2 separate regions of the Homo sapiens genome follow, and region 1 is linked to region 2. Evidence: fine-mapped expression QTL. A gene starts in region 2. The other region holds a variant in brackets. All regions are shown on one strand. Distances are from middle to middle. Region 1 overlaps ZNF354A (zinc finger protein 354A). Region 2 holds the start of CLK4 (CDC like kinase 4).

Region 1 (8,571 bases), 96 kb before region 2:
CACCTCCTTCCCTGAATAAAAGCGGTTGGTCACTGAAAAATTTGAGCTGAGTGTGTGAGGATTGTACAAATCAGATCTTTATAAATAAACATTAAAAACCTATTCCCCCTTATAGGCATGAAATTGCCCTGTGTCTGGGAATGGAAGAGGTGGTATTGATAATCATTCCTCTCTCTCTATGTAATCACACACTCCAAGTTTGTCCATGATTCAGGCATCGTTTCCCAACGATTCTGTAGTTTGCTTGTCTCCCAACAGGGAGCTTCATTCAGCCTCTAGGCCTACCACCTGCCTTTCCCACTTGTCTTTTCCAGGGATTAGCAAACTTTTACTATAAAAAGCCATGTAGGCTGGGCATGGTGGCTCACACCTGTAATCCCAGCACTTTGGGAGGCCAAGGCGGGCAGATCATGAGGTCAAGAGATAGAGACCATTCTGGCTAACGTGGTGAAAGCCTGTCTCTACTAAAAAACACAAAAAAAATTAGCTGGGTGTGATGCCGGGCGCCTGTAGTCCCCGCTACTTTGAAGGCTGAGGCAGGAGAATGGCGAGGAGCTTGCAGTGAGCCAAGTTCCCGCCACTGCACTCCAGCCTGGGCGACAAAGCGAGACTCTGTCTCAAAAAAAAAAAAGCCACGTAGTAAAGACTTTAGGCTTTGTGGGCTGCGTAATGGTCTCCGTAACATATTTCTCTTTTTTTTTCCCACCATTCTTTGCACAGGGCCATACATAAACAGGCAGTGGTCTGAATTTGGCCCATGACCCGTAGTTTGCTGATCACTGCCATCCTTAAAAGGGAGTCACATAGGCCGGGCGCGGTGGCTCACACCTGTAATCCCAGCACTTTGGGAGGCCGAGGCGGGCAGATCACAAGGTCAGAAGATCAAGACCATCCTGGCCAACATGGTGAAACCCTGTCTCTACTGAAAATACAAAACTTAGGCGTGGTGGCATGTTCCTGTAGTCCCCGCTACTTGGGAGACTGAGGCAGGAAAATCACTTGAACCCGGGAGACGGAGGTTGCAGTGAGCCAAGATTGCGCCACTGCACTCCAGCCTGGCAATAGAGCGAGACTCCTCCTCAGAAAAAAAAAGCGGAGTCAGATAGTGTTTTCTCGTTTTAGACAAGCTACCTGGTACATAATCCTTTTCATAGATAACCTACTTAGAAATTCTAATCAGTCTGTATATCTTAACATTTCCTCTTCTATAGAAAGCTAGTGGTATCCTATTACCAATACTGCATGTTGATCATATTTTCCTAACCTATAATTAATTGTCCCAGAGTCATGTCCTACAAGTCACTTGTCTTTTCCTCACCCTACCGCCTTACCCCCTTACCTCCCAGGGGCACAACTGAAGCCCTACACAGAAGCTCTTTGTACCATCCTGTGAGTTCTGTATTTAAATTTGGGATAACTGTATCAATACAAAACCAAGTCTGATTTGTTTGGTTGTGGTTTTTTGTTTATGTGCAGGGCTCCCATTTACCAAACCAAAAGTGATCTCCCTGTTGCAGCAAGGAGAAGATCCCTGGGAGGTGGAGAAAGACGGTTCTGGCGTCTCCTCTCTAGGTAAGTGGGTGGCCCGAGGTGCGGAATGGCCGCAGACAATGGTCTGGTTAATGAGAGGAGGTAGGAACGTTGGTTGGGAAACTCCCTTGAGAATTCTCAGGCCTCAAGAAGTGATGGGGAAGCGGAAGCCCAGGCTCTTAGGCAGGATTCACTTCCCCATGAATCTCTCAGAATCTCTTTCTTACTCTTTCCTGTTGTTTTAGAATAGGGCTGTATTTTCATGTATTCATTCAGCAAACATAGTCTATTTAAGGAATTTCAAATAATCACTCTGGCTGAAGCTCAGGGTGTATTTGGGAAAGGAGGAGGTGAGGAAGGAAATAGCCTAGAAAGCTAGGGAAGGGCCGCGTGGTAAGTGCTTGGGCACGGTTCTAAGAGGTGGAAACTGTCCCATGGAGCACTGGAAATAATGGAAGGATTTGGGCAGGAATCATATGGTCCTTGGTATCTTAGAAAAGTTGGTGTGAATCAGAAACAGCTGAGTCTCCATCCGTGTAAGAACAGCTAAGGGACCTGTGAGCATCACCACCCTGAAAACAAGAGTCCAGGGACGTGGACAGAGCTCCCAAAAAGTTACAGAGCATTGTTAGGACGCCACCATTTATGTCTAATGAAAATTATGTGTATGTGTAATGTGCACATAAGCAGAGAGAAAGGTTAGGAGGACACACCTTAGCTGATGACATTAGTTACACTTGGAATGGGATTGAGAATGGGTCCATGGAAGGGGGCATTACTTACATGTAGTATTTTAATGTTTCACAAAGAGAATATATTTGTGACGTTCTTATGTGATTTGAATTCACAAGAATGGTCACTTTGGAAGCATCGTGTTTGAAAGTGAGGCAGAACGCTGGGCACGGTGGCTCACGCCTGTCATCCTAGCACTTTCAGAGGCCGAGGCGGGCGGATCACCTGAGGTCAGGAGTTTGAGACCAGCCTGGGCAACATGGCAAAACCCTGCCTCTACTAAAAATACAAAAATTAGCCAAGCGTGGTGGGGCAGGCCTGTAATCCCAGCTACTCCGGAGGCTGAGACAGGAGAAACACTTGAACCCGGGAGGCGGAGGTTGCAGTGAGCCGAGATTGCGCCACTTCACTCCAGCCTTGGCGACAGAGTGAGACTCTGTCTTAAAAAAAAAAAAAAAGGCGGGAAGCCTTGCAGAGCGATTGCAGTCATGGAGGGAGGCAGGAGGTGGAAGGGCCTGGATGAAGGCACTTGCCGTGAGTTCGTGAGGGAGGAGGCGGCGCCCACGTGATCAGGGTACAGGAGCAGTTGGGTGTGGGATGGATTTCACTTGAGATGTGAGTGAAGTCGTCAGGTGGGGAACCCTGGTGGGCAGGTGTGTAAGTGACAGGGCCGAGACTCAAGGGAGGTCAGGGAGCCCATTAGCATGATGGGCATTAGAAGCTTGGAGCTGGCCAGGTGAGGGGGCCAAGTGGAGGCCCGAATTTCAGGAAACAGCATTTGCGAGGTGCTTAAGCAGGAGGAATCTGACAGAGCCCGAGAAGTAATCAGAGTAGAGAAACGGGGAGGGGCCATCGTGGCAGTGGGGGACTGAGAGTGGTTGAACTGGGGGGGCTCTGGCTCTGGGGGATCAAGGTTGAACCCTCGCCCACAGCTTTGTATAGCATTGGGCAGAAAGGGACACAGGTCTCCTGCTTCTGGAGTGCACGATCTAGTGGGGGACAAGGTGAACACACTCATTGCACACAAGGCACAGAAGGACACATTCCAGTGAGGACCACGTGGGAAAGACACTCGGTGCTGTGAGAGTGCAGAGCAGGCAGGTGGCGTCAGCAAAGGCTTCCCTGTGGAAGGGCCTGGGATCAAAGGACTGAAGAATTGCTCAGGCCTAAAGAAAGGTGTTCATGAAGGTCCAGAGAAGCAAAGCCAGCGAGGAGAAGGTGGAGCACCCGAGAGAGAGCCACGGGCCCTGTCACAGGGTTTGGTTGGTGCTTGAGAGCCAGGCACAGGTTCTGAGGAGCCGTAAGTAGCCCAGGGCAGGCCTAGGCTGCTTTCTGCAGCCGCCAGCCCATGTGGAGAACCTGACGGCCACAGTGCAGGGCTTGTCAGGTCCAGAGGGCTCAGTGATGGCCCCTTATGCCATGGGCCCAGCAAGGAGCTGCAGGGCAGGCAGCCTCGGTCCCCACAGCCCCTGTGCTGGGGAGAGCTTTCTCCTCCCTGAAGAAAGGTGAGATTTTTTTATATGGGAACCACACTTGTTTATCTTTTTAACTCTCCTTTGGGAGAAATACACTACGTGGTCTGGCCCTGGCTACCTCTTCACTCTCAGCTCCTTCCACTCTGCCCTTCATTCGAGGCCTCTGATCACCCTTGGCCGCCCTGCAGTGTGTCATGGGGGGCGCCAAGCAGGCCCCCACTCAGGGCCTCTGCCCTGCTTTTTCTGTCTGGGACTGTTCTT[C/T]GTGGCGGTCATGCGTCCATGTGGCTCGCTCACTTCCTTGTGCTGCACAGGCTTCGGCTCACACAGGCACAGATCATCTGACACGCAGCCCTGCAGCCCCCACGCCATCTCCTCACCGTGCTTTATTTTCCCTCCTCGTGCTTAGCGCTGTGTAATAGATCTGTTTCTTCATGATCTGTCTCTGCCTCTGCATTGTAAGCTGCTGTGGGAGGGGTTGCCTGTTTCATTCACTCCTGTTTTCCAAGAACCTAAAACAGTCCCTGGCCAGGGTATGCGTCCAGTTGTATAATGAATGCACGAGTGACTTGGACTAGGTTAGTGGTGTTGGAGACAGAAAGAAGTGAACCAGTCCCAGGGATGTCCAGGAGATACAGCCAGCAGGACTGTTAGACATGGAAGATAGAGGAGATGGGGTAACAAAGAAAATAAAAGCAAACAAAAGGGAGATGGGGTTGTCAGGGATGCTTGCTTGGTTTCTGGTTTGTTCTGTGACGGTTGGTGATGTCATTCAGTGAGATAGGAACACTAGAAGGAGATCAGATTTGGAGATGATGTAAATTTGGTTTTAGATTAATTGAGCTGTTTTTGGTTGACCTAGTTATCCCAGTGGCGATGACAAGTAGTGTTGATTTCGGAGTACAGTACCTCAAAATGTAGACTGAGCTTGAAATGTAAATTTGGGAGAACCTGATCAATATAGGGTGATTGAAATAATGGGAGAGGATGAGTTGGCCTAGGGAGAGTGTTCACATTACAGTAAGAGTAAGAAAGAGCCTAAGACTGAATCTTGAGGAACTCCAGCATTTCAGGAAGCCAGGCAGAGAGAAATGAACCCATAGGGAAGACAGGTAAAAGCGTACTGTAAGGAAAATCAGGAGAGGCAGGTGACATTGGAGGCAAGGCTCATGATGGAATGGTAGCAGTAGATGGGGAAAAGTAGACGAATGTGAGGCAGATTTAGATGGCAGAATAAACAGGTCTTGGTAATTGATTAGATGAGGGGGCTGAGGGAGGGAGAATTATTAAGGATAACTCTTAAGGTTTTGATTCAGAGGTGGTGCCATTTACAGAGACAAGGGGTTGACCAGGTCGGAGGGAAGAATCGTGAGTGTGGTTTTAGGTGTGTTGACTTTGAGGCATCTGAACTGCTCTTTTGAGTAGGTCGTCTGTAAGGGGGAGTCGAGTATGGGAGATATCTTGCTTAGAGGATGAGTCTATGATTGAAGTTGCCTGTGGAAAGATGCAGAGTGAGAAGAACTGGGGGCCTAGAACTAAAGCTAAGGCACTCCAAGGATGATAAACTGTGGTACGTCCACACAGCTGTAAAGTGGAATGAGGAGGACCTCTGTAACTTCTACTATGGAGTGATCTCCAGAATGTGAGAATAAGTGCAGAACAGCACAGTTAGTACTGTTATCTAAGAAAGGTGGGTGGGAATACCAAGAAAAGTGTGTGTGTATTTACTTACACTGTCATGGAGCACATAATGTTTCAGTCAATGATAGCCTACATATATGATGATGCTCCCATAGATGATAATACTGCATTTTTCCTGTCCCTTTTCTATGTTTTAATATGTTGAGATGCACAAATACTTACAATTGTGTTACAGTAGCCTACAGTATTCAGCTAAGTAACATGCTGTATAGGGGTATAGCCTAGGTGTGTAGTAGCCTATACCATCTAGATTTGTGTAACACACTCTGATGACTGCACAACATCGCCAACAACGCGTATCTCAGAACATATCCCAGTCATTAAGCAGTGCAATTATTTTTTTTAGAAAGATAAAAGCAAAAGAAAAAAAAGGAGATCAATAAAAATGGTTATCTCTAAGGTGAAGGAAGAAAAAGGATGGAACAGGGGTAGAATCTATGACTTTTTGAGGTCTCAAAATTTTGACTTCAGAACTATAAAAATGGTTTATAAAATTATAAGACAAAATTAAACAAAAATGAGAAAGTACCCCCTACATATTGAAAGCAGAATGAAACAACCCTAATTGTGTTCCAGGTTGGTGGCTTAGCCACAAAAAGAATTATTTGAATTGCCTTTACATTGCAGCAGTTTGACTTATTAGTGTAGGTATTCTAGGGGCAAAAGTAACTGCAAGCAGTGGTGTTAATTTTGATGGATGTGCTAAGAGCGGTTTTGATGTTTTTACAGATGAAATGATTTTGCTGTCTGGGATGTGCTCTAGCATAACCTAGTGGACGAGATGAAAGGGTTTGTGTTAGTTTGCTAGGGCTCCATACTGAAGTACCACAAGCTTCGTGGCTTAAAACAGTAGAGATTTACTGTCTCACAGTTCTGAAGGTCAAAATCAAGATATTCGCAGGGCCCCGCTCCCTCTGAGACTCTGCATAGAATTCTTCCTTGCCTTTTGCTAGCTTGTAGCGATGGCCAACTTGGAGATCTCCGTGGCCTGCAGCTGCATCAGTCCTATCTGTGCCTCCGTCTTCACACTGTGTTCGCCCGGTGTCTTCACATCATCTTTCCTTCTGGATGCCTGTGTCCAAATTTCCCCAGTTTACGGGGACAGCAGTCACGCTGGATTAGGGCTCACCCCAATGACTTCATCTTAATTTGATTGAACGTGCAAAGACCATATTTTAAAGTAAGGTCACGTTCTGAGGTCCTGGAAGTTAGGACTTCTACGTCTCTCTTTTGAATGATGCGGTTCAGCCCATAACAAGGTTGTCAATAGAATAGTGTTGCTGGTTATTGAAACTGGCTGGAGATTCACTGTACAATTCACACTACTTTTACATATGCTGAAAATTTCTATGTTAAAAGCTTTAAAAATAAGAGTTACCACAACAACATTTCTAAAACAGCTTTTCTCTTTTCCACCAGCACAAAGATGATAGAGGATGTTTACAAATAGGCAGTACTACCCCCATCATGGTTTATGTGCAGTTCCCAGCAGATTGCTCCTTGAGTTCTCTGACTCTAGAAAACCTTGTGAGACTGCAAATGCAAGTGACATTTTTTTTTTTTTTTGAGACGGAGTCTCGCTCTGTCGCCCAGGCTGGAGTGCGGTGGCGGGATCTCGGCTCACTGCAAGCTCCGCCTCCCGGGTTCACGCCATTCTCCTGCCTCAGCCTCCCAAGTAGCTGGGACTACAGGCGCCCGCCACTACGCCCGGCTAATTTTTTGTATTTTTAGTAGAGACGGGGTTTCACCGTTTTAGCCGGGATGGTCTCGATCTCCTGACCTCGTGATCCGCCCGCCTCGGCCTCCCAAAGTGCTGGGATTACAGGCGTGAGCCACCGCGCCCGGCCGCAAGTGACATTTTTATAGGTGGAGCTTTTACTCTGACTAGCTATAGGATAAGGTGGGGGTGGATACTTCAGCAAATAAGTCTGGAAAACTGACTTGCATTCAAAGACTTGGGTGCTGCCTTCAGCCCTTGTGCTACCCCTTCATCTAGCCTATGGCGATTCCTTTCACATCCTATCTTATATGTCAATTCTTACGAAACACTCCAGCAGCGTCCTGCTGCACCCCTTTTCTACCTGCACCCTCACTATCTAAGGACAGTTGGATATGATTCTAAGCTCGTGTTCACGTCCATTTCTAGCTTATGTTTCTATTGTAGAAATTGTCACATTGTATTGTGATTACCTACTGATGTCTTCATTTCTAATGTCTGACTATAAACTCTCTGAAGAAATCAACTGTTCCTTTTAATTACTGGATCCGTAGGGAACTGTGGATCACCGATGCCTAGGATAGAGCCTAATACATAGTAGGTACTTTTTAAATATTTGATAAATTAATAAAGTAAGGCGTGACCAATGCTTTTTGAAATAACATGACCAATTCTGTGTATTAAGAGGGGTAAATCCAGTGGGAAATAATACTGGAAAGGCAAGAAACAGGTCAAAGGAATAACTTAAGATCAGGAGCAAGTCACTCTACAGTGAGGAGATCCTGAACTTAGACATATTCACGATGGCTTATTAGAGACATTTTAGTGATGAGATTTAAGAGAATGTGCAGCCTGGGCAACACAATGAAACCCTGTCACTACGCAAGATAAAAATATTAGCCAAGCTTGGCAGTGTGCACCCGTAGTTCCTGCTGCTCAGGAGGCTGAGGTGGGAGAATCGCTTGAGCCCTGGAGTTTGAGGCTGCAGTGAGCTATGATGGCACCAGTGCATTTCAGCCTGGGCAACAGAGCAAGACCCTGTCTCTCAAAAAACAAAAAAATGAAGATTTTGATGACTGCCTAGGGAAGAGAAATTCTAAGATAAAACTAAGAATTTACGGTAAATTAACTGAAGAGATGATGGTGTCATTTTGAACTGGAAAACATATAAAAAAGGTTTGAAAAGGAATGCTCTGGGTTCAGATTTGGACAGGCTGAATTTAAAAAGAAAGATACACAAGTGGAAATTCTAACCGGCAGTTGGAAAGACCTCTGTAAAGTATTTTTCAGGATAGTCGTACACATAAGAGGTGTGGGAGTAAATGAAATCATCCAGGGAGATAGGGTTGAAGAAACACTCTCTGGGTGTAGTGAGAGTCCAGGTGGAAGAGTCTAGACCTGATAACAGGAAGTGGTCAG
Region 2 (8,571 bases):
TGTGTAAGTTGAAGCAGTCAGTAGAAAGGATTAAATGCAAGAGCTTTGGAGCAAGCAAGATCTGGGTCTGAATCCTGATTCTGGGACTTGATAACTGATCTAGGGCAGATAACCAATGATCACTTGATAGGATTCAGATGATTAAATGAGATCATGTATATGAAGTGGTTAGCATAGAATGAGCATTTGATAGCTAAAAGCAAGTCTAATTAGTAAGTATCAGTAACCAGCAGCTAATAACAGAGGCTATAACTGCAAAGGTTTATACCTTTGTAAAGGTTACTCTATACGGTAATAAGCTTTTGTTTAATTTACACAATAATTTAGACTTTTACTCTAAAACCTGGCTCTCATATATGAGTGTTTTTGATGTCTGAAGTTAAGCATGTCGTATACATATCCTAGAATATGTGATAAGAATATTCCTTTGGTTGCTCTTCAAAGCTAAAAATTTCTTTTTTTTTTTTTTTTGAGACAGAGTCTTACTGTTACCCAGGCTGGAGTGCAGCGGCACGATCTCAGCTCACTGCAGCCCCGCCTCCTGGGTTCAAGCGATTCTTCTGCCTCAGCCTCCTAAGTAGCTGGGGGTACAGGCACCCGCCACCATGCCCAGCTAATTTTTGTATTTTTAGTAGAGACGGGGTTTCACCATATTGGCCAGGCTGGTCTCGAACTCCTGACCTCATGATCCGCCTGCCTCGGTCTCCCAAAGTGCTGGGATTACAGGCGTGAGCCACCGTGCCCAGCCAAAAAAATTCTTAAACTAGTTCTTTTTGTTTTTGCTTTTGAGACAGGGTTTGGCTCTGTCACCCAGGCTGGAGTGCAGTTGCACGATCTTGGCTCACTGCAACCTCTGCCTCCTGGGCTCAAACCATCCTCCCACCTCAGCCTCCCGAGTAGCTGGGACCACAGCCATGCACCACCATGTCCAGCCAATTTTTTTTCTGTATTTTTTGTAGAGATGGGATTTCACCATGTTGGCCAGGCTAGTCTTGAAATCCCAGGCTCAAGTGATCCACCCACCTCTGCCTGCAACCTGAGATTACAGGCGTGAGCCACTGTGCCCAGCCTTTGACTAGCTGCTTGGACACATCAGTTAACTCAAAGGTTTTTTTGGACATACTGTTCTTGTGTAGAGATGAAACCACTGGATTAGGCAGTGTTTCTGGTATTGGTAGTAGATTCTCAGAAATTTAGATAAACCTTTTCATTAAGTCTTGCCAGGTAACTGACTTAATAGGAAGGGTTGAGGCTGCCACGAAAGGGTGGTAAGCTAACTGGTGCAGTGATGCTGGGATGAAATGTCTACCTTTAACTTACTCACTTTGACCTTAAACCAACTGAGCAAAATGGCCCAAAGCAGCTTATGTAAACAACCTACAAATATTTACTGGGTTCTAGGCCTGAGATACCAAAGACAATATAAATCAGGTCCTTGTCTCCAAACTCAGCACAAAGCCACAGAGAGTGACTAGGGGCACCATAGTGCTGCATCACATAGCATAGAGGTGCTAGTCATTCTCAGCTTCCTTCTGATCACTACACACTTTTAAACATTAGACCTTTTGGTGGCATACAAATTAAAACACTAAAGCGAGATGAATGTAATTACAAAGCAGACTCTACTATTGGGTAACAGTGTGTGTGACGTCTATAATATAAAGGCCTCTGTAGGTGGCATTTCAAGTGGCTGCTTTTTAACATAGTGTTGCTTTTTTGAGCAGAATTGTGGGCTGTCCTGACCACACTTTCTTATAACCCCAGGAGGCAGGATCTCTCCTACTCCATGAAACAGGAGAACATTCTTTGGTGCCAGCTTGAATTTACATTCTCATATGCTGCAATTTGAGCCCCACTCTACCTTGTATTATCGCCCAGACCAGTCAGCTCAACATTCTATCTAATAGATTCCCTTGAGACGGGATGTGTAATCAATTGTAGAACCAATACATTTCACTCTTTGGGCAAAATCTGTTAGCATACCAGGTGGCTCCAAATACTCCACTATTTGAGGACTTCACATCTAACTGGAGTAGTCAGGAGCCGGGAAATGGGTGGGAACTCATGTCAGAGACAGCATCTTAAAGAAATGGCCTTTCAAGGATGAGTAAGATTTAAATTTGTAGATGCAAAAATGGTGGCTATTCTAGATGAAAATAATATCATTTGTTTCATTCTGTAGCATAAAGAGTTTACCCTTCCAGTTTTCCAAGTTTCTTTTCAACTTCGCTTCTTGGAGTGCAATCTCCATGAAAATTCAACTTACTTTTTGAAATGCTGTACAATCTCCGAGATTTATCTAAATTTACCCTACTTACCCAAACCAGATGGCACAAGTTTCTATCATGTTAGATCACTAAAGGTATTTCCGTTCCCTCCTTTCACCTAACAGGATAACAGGTCTCCCACATGCTACTGGGCTAATACCCGCAAGAGTTCAACCCTACCCTCCCAAATTTGATTTCTAGCTTTCCCTTTTATCCAGCGAATCCCCGTCAGAATACAGAAGCCAACCCCCACCCCGCCCGCCGTCCCCCCCCACGATCTTCAGTCTCACCTAAACCCTTTCCCTCACTTACGCCCTTCCTTGCTTTGACACCCTATTCTTGGTTCTCCTCCTCTGCTGATCATTCCTTCTCAGGCCCCTTTCCCTCTGGCCCTTGAGTGTTCCCCACAGGGCTCCGACTTTGACCCTAATATTTCTCATGTTACATACTTACACGGGGGAACTGCCTGAGGGTCCTCAGAACTGCAGAATACCTTATTTGAGGTAAGCAAGCCCCATAACGGACTATCACTAGCTCAGAGACATTTTTCAGCCTTGAATAAAATCAGCCCGCAGGGACAAAAAAAAATGGGGAAAACTTCGTTAGGGAAACTTCCAGCGACCTTAACTGCTCAGGAGGTAGGGATCCTAACAGGAAAACCTTGTCAGGAGTCTCCATTGAAACCTCCGGGTTTTTGTTTTGTTCTGAATAGGAGCACGTGCCTTGAAAAGATTAGCACCCCTTGAGCTTGTTTTCTGAGACAGCCTCTTTGTCCGAATCCACCTTAGACTGGAAGCGCCAAGTGGGCAGGACAAGCACCCAGTCCAGGGAACAGCCCAGGGACCAGCCAAGGCCCGCCCTAGGCGGTTTTGGGGCCGTTGTCGGGTGCCGGCTGCGGGAGTTGAGGTCCCGGGGGAGGGGGCAGACACGCGGTACACACTGAGGGCGGGACACGGGCGTTCCTTCCCGGTTCCACCCGAGCCCGTAGAGAACGTAAACACCCTCCCGGCCTAGAGGCCCCGGGACCGGGTGGGCGGGGGGGGGGGGGTGGAAATGCTTGGGCCGCGCAGCCGCAGTGTGGAGGCTCGAGCCCCGCTCTTACGTCACGTGGAGCCCCGCCCTTAGGTGGAGCGGCGGGAGCGCGCAAGGTTCTGTCACGCAGGCGCGTTCGCGCGGCGTAGGTGGTGCTAGAGGCGACTCGGGGGATTCTAGGGCGACGGCGCTGCCGCCATTTTGTGGGGTGTTTGTCGCAGCGGCCGAGGAGGGAAGACGGCAGTTTGGCGACATTTCTCGGCCGAAGGGCCATTTGCTTTTGCGGAGGTAGGGTTGCAGATGGTGTGTGCTGGGACAGGCGGCTGTCGGTCTTTAGGTCTCCGAGCCAGGTGTCGGAGAAACGACCGCGTTAGGGGCCTGGGCTTCTGGAGCTGAGTTGGGAGTTCTGCGAGGCGCTGCTCGGCTGGTGCACGCCGGCAGCACCGAAAGTTGCTCGGGCGTCGCGGTTCTGCCGCTGACCCTTCTCTGAGGGCCCTGGCCGCTCGCGTCGCGGCTCCGGAGGCCGTGGGCTCGCGGTCCCCTGCTGCCTGGCGAGCGCGGCTGTTGGTTAACCCTGTCGGGACCTCTTCCAGCCGGCGGGCGCTAGGACCTGTCGGGAGACCCTTCGAGAGCCGTCTCTGGCATTCGTGTTGTCGGAGATCAAGTCTTCCCCTGGATTCCTGGCCTGGGCCGTTTGTAGCGTTTCGGGGGTTTTCCAGAGTCAAGCATTTGCCCCTGTCTTGAGTGCGCCAAAGGCACTGGCCGGGTGCCCAGGAGCCGGGAGGTGGGGACCGGGCGTCCGTGCAAATCCAGGTGGTTGAGGGCAGTAGCTGCTTGTGAGAGGTGGAAATTTGCGGAGGCTAGTCCTCTGTGCTATGCTGAACACAACATTGTTGCAGCGAACCTGCGTTTCTGGTGGTTTTGCATCTTATTATCCCTGGTTGCCTAAATAGTCCAGATAGGCTTATCCGATCCTTAGGAAACCGCCCCGCAAACTGAACTCGCCAGCCACTTTGTCTTGCCTCATAGCTGTCCTGTGCGATTGTGCTTTTTACACACCCCTACAGGCTTGTAACCCATTAAATGCAGTCCTCTTGGAGCCATCCAATCCTAAACTTATAACCTGTTTCGATGTTTTTAAGCCATGTACGTAGCGTAAAGTTGTCAAGAACTACAGGATCTTAAGGGCAGTGGCGATGGATCTACATATGAGATCCATTGTGTCATTATTTTTTGAAAGATACCTACTCTAGCATGTGGGATGCTTTATTAGAGGCAGTGTCATGATTCTAGATAGCTTTTCTTTTTTATGTATGCGAAGGAACCTTACCACGTAGAACGTGGGTCGGGTGATCTTTGTGCCTCCAGATAAAATATTTTTGAACATTGCAGGGTGAGTGGGGGAGGTCAGAGGCTGGGACTAACAGCTGAATTACATTTGAAGTAGTGAACTTGAGAAGAATTTTGGACTCTCACAACGGAGCTCGTTCTTATTTTAATGTTTGCATATTAACTGATAATTTGAGAGTTCTGTTTTGCTGGAGGTTAGCTGGTTGTAAGCAGACTTACAGTAGAAGAGGAAAAAACAAAACTGAAGAAGATACATAAGTCTTGAAAAAAACTTCATAGTAATGGAGGGTCATAATAATAACGCTCGGTCATCAGATGTGATTTTGCTTGCTATGATTTAAAAATGCTTAACCAAGCTGAGTTCCTGATGTGGTTAAAATACAACTTTGGTATTTGACGGAACGCTTCAGAAGAACTGCACTTGAAATACACATTTTCTTTTTTTTTTTTTTTTTTTTTTTGAGACAGGGTCTCACTGTCGCCCATACTGGTATGCAATGGCGTGATCATGGCTCACTGCAGCCTTGACTTCCTTGGGCTCCAGTGATTGTCCCAGTAGGTGGGACTACAGGCTCGAGTCACCATGTGCGGCTAATTTTTTGTATTTTTTGTAAAGGCAGGGTTTCGCCGTGTTGCCCAGGCCAGTCTCGAATTCCTGGGCTCAAGGGATGAGGCGCCACTGCGTCCAGCCATAAATTTTTCTTGATAGCTCTAATGAAGAAAGTTTGTGTTTTGGCCTTTTGCCTCAAGTAAATGTGTGCTGTTATTCATGTCACGTTCCCATATGGAAGTGACTCCATTTGTATCAAACCGGAATGCTCACTTCCATTGAGACGCTAACAAGAGTTTTAGAATTGCTGTTTGGCCTGATCAGTGCCTTCTCTTCCTCTGTAAAGTGAGCTGAGAGCCACCTTAGAAGGATGCTTGATGGGTATAGAATTAGAATCAGCAAGAGAGTGAATTAAAATATCTGACTATCTGGTGGCAATCAGACTCTGATGGCGTGACACATACTTTCTTGTGGAATACCTCCCAGAAGAATTGAAGCTGCCTCACTCCAAAACCTTTAATCCATTTAAAATCATTTAAATTTCTGCTTGCATTTGTTTGCTTATTAGTCATTTGGGCAAGCTGAATGAGGTTAACTGAGTGGGTTTTACTCCATTTTAGCTTTTTTCAGCTCCTTGCTGAATTGTGAAATTCTTCTCTTTTTACCATTTAAACTCACCCTGTTTAGGAGAATTTGGACCTGACTGTTAAAACTTAACTGTTTTGGAAAATAATTAAGATGGGGAGAGACAGATAGGGGTTATATTGTTTGAGCGCAGATGCTGAGCCTGGAAGGAACCCAGGTTATGCACTGGAGTTTGTAAATAAAGTCAGCTGTCACCGTTATCGTTTGCTTTCACTGTGACCATGCTTCAGTGTGCATCCTTGTAGGTTGAGTTCTTTTTCAGAGTTACTCCAGATTTACTACAAATAGATTTTAAGGTTAAGAATAACTGCTGGATAAGAAAATGAACTTGTTGGATAGAGAAAATGAGTTCATAAAATCACATAAACATTTAAAAAAATTTTTTTTGTAGAGACAGTTTCACTATGTGTAGCGCAGGCTGGTCTCAGACTCCTGGGCTTGGCCTCCCAAAATTCTGGGATTACAGGCATGAGCCACCGTACCCGGCCTAAAATCACCTTTTTATATCTCTTCAGTTTCTCTGTTGAATATTGTGTTCTATCCACACAGAACTAATATTCTCAAAGCTTAGAGTCATTCTGAGATTTAGAGAAAAGAACTATGGAGAATTTGAGAAAAAGAAGCTTCATCATTGAATAGCTCTTTACCATTAAAACAAAGTCACCTCCCATATTTAGTATCCCTAAGTGTTTTTGTCTTGCACTTCAGTTATTTGTATTACAGTACTTTGCCAAAGCTGCATGACACTGATATTATTTCTCCTTAAATCAGCTCACATTTTAATGTTAACATTTTTAAAAGAAAATATGTCAATAACTTAATTGGAAAATCACTAATAAGTAGAAAGTAACAAAATAAGATAAATAAAAACGTTACTAATTTTTAGCTAAATACTCTTGTCTGCTGGAAACACTAGGCCTGAACCTTTTTATTTGCCCCCCCCGGCTTTTTTTTAATTTTTAAAAAGGCAGTTAGCAAGTGTTAGTTGAAGACAAGCACCAAGCTGAGAATTTGTCCTGGCTGTAATCAGAATTCAAAAAAAAAAAATGTCTTAAGGTATCAGTATTACCCACAATTTAATACTAGATCTCTATGCCTCTTAGCAGTCATCTGACATACCAGTGCCTTGGGAAGCATTACCACCTAAAAAGATTTTGGAGCCTGTAAGACCCTGTGTGTTGGGTTTTGATAACTTAAATAATATTAATATATAATAATTTACCTATCACACATCTGTAACCTCCACAATTCCCTTTTCATTTCTATCAACAGATGCGGCATTCCAAAAGAACTCACTGTCCTGATTGGGATAGCAGAGAAAGCTGGGGACATGAAAGCTATCGTGGAAGTCACAAGCGGAAGAGGAGATCTCATAGTAGCACACAAGAGAACAGGCATTGTAAACCACATCACCAGTTTAAAGAATCTGATTGGTAAATTAACTCTTGAACTACTAGCATTTTAGCTCTAATAGTTTTAAATGATTTGTCATTTGCTTATATAGCTTTCATCTGTCAAATTGTTTTATAATTCAGTCAACAAATATTCGTTTAGAAAATATTTGAGTACTTATTTTAGATAGGCGCTGAGGCTACAGCTGTAAATAAAACAAAGTTCTTATCCTTATGTATGTCTGTCTGCCTGGGAGTGGTAGGAGACAGTTGATCAGTAAGTGAATGTGAAATGTATTAAATAACATGGTGAGTCCCAACTGCCAGTAACGTGATTAGGGAGATGACACACAAAAAGTTAAGTAATAGTGATAGAATGCCCAATGAGTACCTTTAACTTGTATGTAGGAGGGAGATGGGTATGTTGTAGTGCTCATTGTTTCAGAAATAAGGTAGGGTTTTATAGGGGAGGAGTTATTCCAACAGAGAAAAGCAGCATGTATTATTAGTCACTTATACCATGTCGTACAGGTTATATTTGTAGATGAGGCCAAGGGATATGTTTGGGATTTTTAGAAGCTGGCTTTATTTAAGAACTATTCTTTTGCATAGGTAGTAGCTAGTAATTTGGGAAATGGCCTCAATAAAAACTTGCAACAGCATGTGTGCTGTTTTATTGTATTCTTACCAGTGTACAATTTGGAGGTAATATATTTATATAGAATTAAAGGAATCTTAAAGTTCTAAATGATTAAAGAAAGGCTAGGTAAGTTTTCACTCTTTCATTAATTTCCCTTTTTCGTTTGTTTTGTTGGTTCTGTTTTCTCGTTTTGTGCAGATGTTCCATTGGGACTGTTTACCAGATTGCTTTCTAAATTAGCCAGCTGGGGTTACTTTAAAAAACAGTATGTAATTTCTTTCCTTCTCCACGTTAACAGACTTGTTCTGCCAAACAGCTTATTTGTAGTCAGTGCAGACAAATCATGCTTCATACGCATTGTTATATAAGGGGAAGGGGGAAGGTTTATGACAGGATTTCAGAGACCAGAGATAATTAATAATTAATGTACAGTACACTAAAAAAAACCATCTGTACCCCACTATTAATAAATACAAAAAACCCTAAGGCTTAACGTCATAGTACTGGTTATTCATAGGATAATTATACGTTGTATATATAGAAAGGAAGTGATATGAGTGATGAACAGTTCATTTGTGCTCATAGTTAACTACGTAAACATGATACTGAGTCCAGTTAACCACCAGGCCAGTGCCTGCTTTGATATTTGTACCAGATGTGTTTGGTGGTCAGCGTTTACCATGATCCAGAATATTC

Evidence for each region. PIP is the estimated chance that this variant, and not a neighbour inherited with it, causes the effect.
Region 1: its variant is fine-mapped to the expression of CLK4 in whole blood (INTERVAL, PIP 0.98).

The regions. Positions count from the first base shown.
Region 1 is chr5:178,718,377-178,726,947 of GRCh38, reverse strand. ZNF354A (zinc finger protein 354A) reads left to right here. Exons shown (of 5, transcript NM_005649.3): 4 at 1,477-1,572. Among named protein-coding and RNA genes, the nearest start is that of ZNF354A, 8.0 kb to the left of the region's middle. RefSeq lists a silencer at 2,689-2,889 and an enhancer at 3,105-3,605. The variant C/T (reference allele first, on the strand shown) is at 3,999.
Region 2 is chr5:178,621,962-178,630,532 of GRCh38, reverse strand. CLK4 (CDC like kinase 4) reads left to right here and starts at 3,483. Exons shown (of 13, transcript NM_020666.3): 1 at 3,483-3,587; 2 at 7,117-7,277. The coding sequence starts at 7,117. RefSeq lists enhancers at 1-447, 3,515-4,124, 3,857-4,537.